Linked DNA regions of Homo sapiens. The protein of the gene in region 1 purifies or fractionates together with the protein of each later gene. This does not show direct contact. Each region holds a gene or a part of one and is shown in the gene's direction. Other genes may lie near its edges.

Region 1 (3,600 bases):
CTGCTGTTGTGCGTCTTTATATGGTGCTAATGCCAAATGTATTCACTTTTCCTATCTGAACATGGTCCAGGGACATGCCTCTCCCTGGTCAGGTGCAAAAATCCCACTGGATTTGAACCTTGGTTCCTCAGATGTATTGTCTAAAATGAGTCATTTAGGACAGTGCTTCTCAACTTTAAAGGGAATTTGAATCATCTAGCGATCTTTTTAGAATGTAGATTCTGACAATGGGATGATGATACTGGTCCAGGAAGGGATTTTGATAACAAGGACCTAGAGAAGCTCACACTTGTTCCAAAGAAAGGTTTTCTAAACTGCGACAGGTGTATACATTCATCATGTCAGTTATGTTCATCATTTTATAATAGCTTGAGCACACTGCATGGCACAGCAGGTGCTCAAATGTTTTAAATAATGCATGCATGTGGGTAGAACAGGAAGCGTGGGGAAGAGGGAACTGTGGAGTTTTTTGTTTCTGTTTTTGAATTTTTTTGTTTTGTTTTGGAGATGGAGTCTTGTTCTGTCTCCCAGGCTGGAGTGCAGTGGCACGATTTTGGCTTACTGCAACCTCTGCCTCCCGGGTTCAAGTGATTCTCCTGCCTCAGCTTCCTGAGTAGCTGGGATTACAGGCACCCGCCACCATGCCTGGCTAATTTTTTTTGTATTTTTAGTAGAGACAGGGTTTCACCATGTTGGCCAGGGCTGTTCTTGAACTCCTGACCTCAGGTGATCCACCCACCTTAGCCTCCCAAAGTGCTGAGATTACAGGCATGAACCACCGTGCCCAGCTTTGTTTTTGATTTTTGAGATAGGATCTCACTCTGTGGCCCAGGCTGGATTGCAGTGGCAGGATCATAGCTCATTGCAGCTTTGACCTCCCTGGCTCAGTTGATCCTCCTGCCCCAGCCTCCCAAGTAGCTGGGACCACAGGTGCATGCCACTACACCTGGCTAATTTTAAAAATTTTTTGTAGAGATAGGGGGGTTTCACTGTGTTGTCCAGGCTGGCCTCTTAACTCCTGGGCTCAAGGGATCCTCCCACCTAGGCCTTCCAAAGTGTTGAGATAACAGTTGTGAGCCACTATGCCTGGCCAATTTTATATAGGAGAGGGGGGTGTGTTCCCATGAGGATCCTTATCTTTCCTGAGCGGCATTAGTGGGAGGTAGCCAAGGGGTAGTGGGTAGGATTGAAGGGATTGCTAACTGCTAATATCTGGAATGTGGCAGAACTTGGAATTAACTTGGTAGGTCTGAGCATTGATACTGGAGTTACTCATGACAAAGGCATTGATACTGGAGTTACTCATGACAAAGGCAGAGTGTGAACTCTGATCCCGGAGGAAGAAGGGTTATTTTCAACAATCTCTTCAGCTTGAATAGATTGTTGCTGTGTGTGATTCAGGTTTGGTGCATGACACCTTTCCTCTTCATGGAGCTGACCTAAGGCGGAATATAAGGGAGATGGGAGGGGCAGCTTGGGAAATCAACACCTCCCACCCTCACGACGGATAACCCGAAGGATCTTCTGCAGCAGAGGCAGGAGTCTGGAGGCTGGGATGGTATCAGAAAGGGCCTCCCTGGGTATTGGAGGCAGTGAAGATGAAGGGCGAGAATCCATTGGCCGTGCCAGTACGCCATGGGGGCGGTTGGGAGATCTTGTAGAACAACTGTTCGAGCCCGCTTGTCCACTCATTACTCTGGAATCCGAGTCCCAGCAGGGGCGCGGGAAACCGCTGCTCTGAGAAAAGGTACCTCCCCCAGAAAGACTGCGCGGGAAGTCCCGAGTTTTCCCGCCACGCCGAGGGCGTGATCCCTGACGTCAGAGCTCCGCCTCCACAAGCTGGCGGCCGGTGGGCTCCGCCCTTAACCAAGATGGCGATACGCGTGGGACCGGAAAGAGTTTATAGATTTCCCGTCTACCCTACCTCTGAGGTGAAGGTGGGACTGCCCTGTGGAGCCCACCCTTTCCGTTATGCGCCCGCGCGGCGCAATGACGTAACACAGGCCCGCCCACTGCCCCTGTTGGGTTCCTGAGTCGTGCTGCGTCGACAACGGTAGTGACGCGTATTGCCTGGAGGATGGCGGACGCCGGCATTCGCCGCGTGGTTCCCAGCGACCTGTATCCCCTCGTGCTCGGCTTCCTGCGCGATAACCAACTCTCAGAGGTGGCCAATAAGTTCGCCAAAGCGACAGGAGCTGTGAGTTCCGGGCTTGGGGCGGGGACCGGGCTGAGATGACCACAAGGCTTCAGGCCCTGACGTGCTTAGGTTTCCAGGTGGGGAAGTCTGGGGGTCCGCCAGTCCAGTGTCTGCAAGGCCTTTACGCCGACCCCTCGGCAGTGACCAGAGAAAGCCTGCGGCCTCGGTCGCTTACCTTCCTCCATGTCTGAGTAGATATCGCTGAGTCTTGTTGCTTTTTTCTTGTGACCTGTGCAGCGGCGGCAGCGTGGGAGCCTCGTGGCCCCAAGCCACATGGCTGGCAGAGTGCAGCGGGGAGGTAGAGTCTTGTTCCACTGAGGACGTTGGTTCTTCGGCATCTTCTGGGGGGCTTTTCGTTGGGTGAGGCAAACCGTGATTTGACCTTAGCCTCAGTCACATTTACTGGGATTCAAAAGCAAGTGAAATTTCTTTAGAATGAAGTCTGGGATTTTCGTTTGTAAAGAAGAAAATGAATGAAAGTAGAAGCAGAGTTTTGTTTTGAGTTACACTGAGAATTGAGAGTCATCAACAGCCCTACCAAGTAGGCATAGTAGTGGGCTTGGAGCTTTGGCTAATTGAATCAAACAAACCTAGGTTTGGGACCAGGCTCTGCCACTTTTTAGATACGTGACCCGGGCAGTTTATTTAACCTTTCTGAGTCTTTCTACAGGGATGTCATCATCCACTTTATAGGATTTTTGTGAGTTTCAGTAAGATGATGTGTAAGAGTAGCAATCTCAGTGCTGGTACAGAGGAATCTTGTAAAAGTGAAAGCTGTACCATAGTTATGGCAATTTAGGATGCTCCAAACACATGTAAGAGTAAGAGAACCAGGAATGTGAAAGGTTTGTAATCTACATCAACGGACATTCCTGCATGGGAAGACACTTTGAGAGAGGAGAGAGGGGGGGTCTTCAGCAGGGATGATAGCATGACTAGGAAGGATGGCTTGCACTTTTAGCAGAATCAGGCTGCGAAAGCAAAGAATCAGATCAGCCTCAAAACTTCCTTAAGCTGGGACAGGCTGCCATGTGATCTAACTGCTTTCTTAATGAAACTGTTTAGAGTTGACTGTTAAGGAGACTGCGGAGAGTGCTTTCACAGTGGACTGGATGGAATTGGACATTTCAGAATTAGGATTCTTTTTTTTTTTTTTTTTTTTTTGAGACGGAGTCTCTGTTGCCCAGGCTGGAGTGCAATGGTGCGATCTCGGCTCATTGTAACCTCCGCCTCCCAAGTTCAAGTGATTATCCTGCCTCAGCCTCCCCAGTAGCTGGGATTACAGGCGCGTACCACCACGCCCGGCTAATTTTTGTATTTTTAGTAGAGATGAGGTTTCACCATGTTGGCCAGGCTGGTCTTGAACTCCTGACCTCAAGAAATCCACTTGCCTCAGCCTCTCA
Region 2 (3,825 bases), on another chromosome or scaffold:
ATTTGGGGGTGAATGCCAAAAAAATAGCATCCTTAGATAAGAATACTATCCTTGAGCCACTAAGTATCACTCAGTGTCTGCATATGAGCTTTTCTTCAAGATAAAGATCGCACAGAATTTTGTGTTTACCAGGTCCGCAGAAGTAGAGGCAGATAATGCCATCTATGCCAAACTTCCAAAGTGAATCTGTGAAGAAGTCAGGCACCTCCTTGTCTAATAAAACTAGATTTTAGTCATTAGATTGTGATGCCCTGTACTGGTCCACCTCTAGAAGATTATTATCGTAAGTTGTATTATTTTAAAGGCCGTTTGGAAATTTGCATTCATGTGAACTTCTTGTCCTTGGGTCTGTCTGCCTGCCCTGGACCTGGGTTTGTATCTCGTTCCTAGAGGTTTAGTGGTGTGGAAGTCTTCTGATTCCTTGGTGCAGTGTCCTCACGGGCTCATGGTGTGTTCTGTGCTCAGTGATTTGGTCAGTTTGTTTTGTGTTTCAGCTTGTTCGCATTGCCAAGGTTCTGGGTACAGAAGAACTGTATGGGTATCTGAAGAAGTATCACATAGACCTAGATCCACACTTCAACGATATCCTGGGACAGTAAGTAAGAGAGAGAGAGAGAGTGCTTTACCTTACCCCGTTTCAGAAGTGGAAAGGTTAGCCAAAATCACTTTCTTTTCCCATTCTGATTATAGTAAAATGGAAGTAGCCCTCTTTTTTCCTATGCATATTTTCTTTTAACTTATTGAGATATTTGGACTTTATGTCTTTTAATCATTTTACTTCTCTGAGAGATAACCTATTAATAGAAAAGGTAAAACAAAAATCATAATGTTATAGAAAAAAGTTTTCTGGTACAGCAAAAGCTTATTTTTAATGGCCAAACTTGGAGAGCAATGATTCTTTGAATAAGAGACTTAGTTTGTTTTTTATTATATTTTATTTTATTTACTTCATATCTCTTCAAGGTGGACTTACAATTTCTTCTTGTTCTCTGTAATGGATTTTCTATACAATAGCAAATTTTAAAGCACATTGAGTTTTCAGGTACATTGCAATAATGTTGAGAAGTAAACATTTTGTTAACAGTTTTCAAACAGTATTTTATGGAACCTCCCTGTTTCTGAGGCTAGCCCTGGGAAATATATCTGCTGACCAATAAAAATTGCCCACTCTTCTGCATGCCACCCAGAATTGACTAAAAGTCTACAGCATAAAAAATAATCTAGAAAGGTTCCACATATTCTAAATGAGATATAGAAGTTTTACCTAGTTGTATTTTTCTAATCACAGAGCACCATTGTGTTTCAGGATGCTATGCTGTAACTATGGGGCCGTAGGGCAGGCACCAGTTAGAGATTTAACAAGCTTGTAATCAGTACATTATTCTGAGATTTTGTTGGCTTTAGCCCTAGTAGATAAGGATTCTTGTTGAATTTAGTCTCTGGTTACTAATGCTTCATTTTTCTTCTCAGACATTCACGGAAACGCTGGGAAAACTTTATCCATAGTGAGAACAGACACCTTGTCAGCCCTGAGGCCCTAGATCTTCTGGACAAACTTCTGCGATACGACCATCAACAGAGACTGACTGCCAAAGAGGCCATGGAGCACCCATACTTCTGTGAGTCTCCAGGGACTGTGTTCAGGGAGTAATTCAGTCAAGAGAACAAATCTTCCACTCTTTGTCTTTGAGACCAGTCAGGAGAATTCTAGGGTATTTGGATTGGATTATTCCTAGAATTTGGCCTCATTTATCGTAGATGATTGAGACAACTTTGCAGATCCGTTTCTTGATCACCAAAGGTGTTTGCTTATTCACTGAATGTATCTCCCCGGAGTTCAAGCTGTTTGACTACTCCCTGTTACCCTGAGTTAATAGATCGCAAGTTTCTAAAATTTCTTTTTAAACATACATATATTTGTGTGGAAACCTAATTGAAGATTATTTCTCCCCTCAGAAAACTAGTAATTAGTTAAAAGTAGTAAGATAACTATTGTATGTTTTGAAAGAAGGAGATGAACAGATGGATGGACGAAAGGAATTTGAGGAAAGGGAAGTAAGTGTGGAGAGGCCTCACTGAAATCTTGACTGAACTGCTCACTTAGAAGTGTGTGTGGATTCACTTTGCGTGTTTGCTTATTCTTCTGCATGTGTATGGTTCTTTCCTCTGATAACGTGTGTTTCAAATAAACTTCCTCCTATTATCAGTCTCCTTCCTGGGGAGCAGGGAGGTTGAGAGACTTACCTCAGTCGCTTTCTGAATCAAGAGGGAAACGTTCACCCCTTAAAGTCGTTGTCTCTGGCTTAACAAACATGCTGTCTTTCCCTCTCCTTTGATTTCCTCTGGAGATGAACTAAATTCTTGCCTGAAGAATGTGTCGCTGTAGTCTTGAGCCTGTGGCCCATATGCATAAGGGAGACCGCAAATGGAAAAGCCTTCAGCCTTCTAGACCTCAGCCCCAGGAAACTCAGATGTCCCCGCCCCAGTGTCTGGCACAGAAAGCTGTTTTTACCCGAGTTAGATCAAATTAGGAATACTGATGTTTATGACATGTCATTAATGATCTTTCTGCTTTTCTGAATATATGTCATACTTCAATTTAAAAAATTTCAAACTACGGTTGCTTAAAATGGATAGGTCTTCTGATGGCTCTTTTTACTCACCTTTCCTTTGAAGTGCTTGTTATTCTACATGCTTTGAAGAAATTAGGGGTTAGAGATGATATTAATATTGAAAGAAAATAAATGTAGAAATTTGAACAGTGGGAAATTAGAGTTTCTATGCCTCTTAGCATTGAGTCTGTACTCCGAGGAAGGGTAAGAGTTGACTGCAATAACAATTTCCCTGATCATTTTTCAGTGTTTGGTTTTTATATGGCTGGAATTCCGTGATTTCCGTCTCTCCTGTTGCCCCCCTGACCCTGGCTTGCCCATCAGTCTGTCTCTCTTTCCGTTGAAAGGGTGGGTTTGCCATGGGCTTCTCTCAGCACTCACCACCCTGATTGCCTGACTTTCCTCCTGCTTTCTTGCAGACCCTGTGGTGAAGGAGCAGTCCCAGCCTTGTGCAGACAATGCTGTGCTTTCCAGTGGTCTCACGGCAGCACGATGAAGACTGGAAAGCGACGGGTAATGCGGCATTGATGCTTGCCAATAAAACCAACCAACCAAACACAAACCTTGAAGGAAAACTACAGTGTGATAAAAAGAAATTCTTATCATTCCTTCTAAATGCACAGAAGAGTAAAGACCTAAAAGTCTGTCAAAAAGCAAGAAAGAAACTCCCCAGTGCTAGTCTCCAGGGAGCTGTCACTGTGGCAGCATGGGGATGCACCTAGTTCAGGATCTGAAGGAGCTCTGCCTTTGGAATGCATGGGAGATAGAGACTCGGAGTTGTTGTACATTTACCTTTGTTTAACAGGGCACCACTGTTGAATTAACCCATTCAGTCAACAAGCTCTGAATGTCTGACTTCCTATCTATTCCATTGTGGTCTGGGTTTCCTTTGGTGAAATTCAGGCTCAAGTCTTAGCGAAATGTCAGCAGTCTATACTGACACACCAGCCTCATTTACAAAAAGGAGATATTAAAACAGTGACAGTATTTTTTTTTTAAGCTCTTTACAAATCCACGTTTTATGTATTTTTTAATGACATGAGCTCTCCAGGAAATGTACCTCATCCCCGCAGTTTTCCTCCAAGTGGATTCATTTGGGAGCAAACTGCAGTCACTTTCACAAGAGTCCTCTTTGATGTCAGGAGGGATCACGAAACCTTGCAATGCCATGAACTGGTCCATGGTTATCATCAAAAGTTCCATGCTAAGTGCA

The links. The genes of interacting proteins can lie anywhere in the genome.
Region 2: the proteins of NOLC1 (region 1) and CSNK2A2 purify together in Homo sapiens (affinity purification with mass spectrometry; 5 studies listed by BioGRID and IntAct, with this or other methods). This does not show direct contact.

What each region holds. Positions count from the first base shown.
Region 1 is NC_000010.11:102,150,334-102,153,933, forward strand, and holds the start of NOLC1 (nucleolar and coiled-body phosphoprotein 1), read left to right. Parts: upstream 1-2,055; 5' UTR 2,056-2,077; coding exon 2,078-2,197; intron 2,198-3,600. UniProt on the Homo sapiens protein: Nucleolar protein that acts as a regulator of RNA polymerase I by connecting RNA polymerase I with enzymes responsible for ribosomal processing and modification.
Region 2 is NC_000016.10:58,163,354-58,167,178, reverse strand, and holds part of CSNK2A2 (casein kinase II subunit alpha'), read left to right. Parts: intron 1-494; coding exon 495-595; intron 596-1,470; coding exon 1,471-1,619; intron 1,620-3,031; coding exon 3,032-3,108; 3' UTR 3,109-3,125; exon of another isoform or gene 3,126-3,825.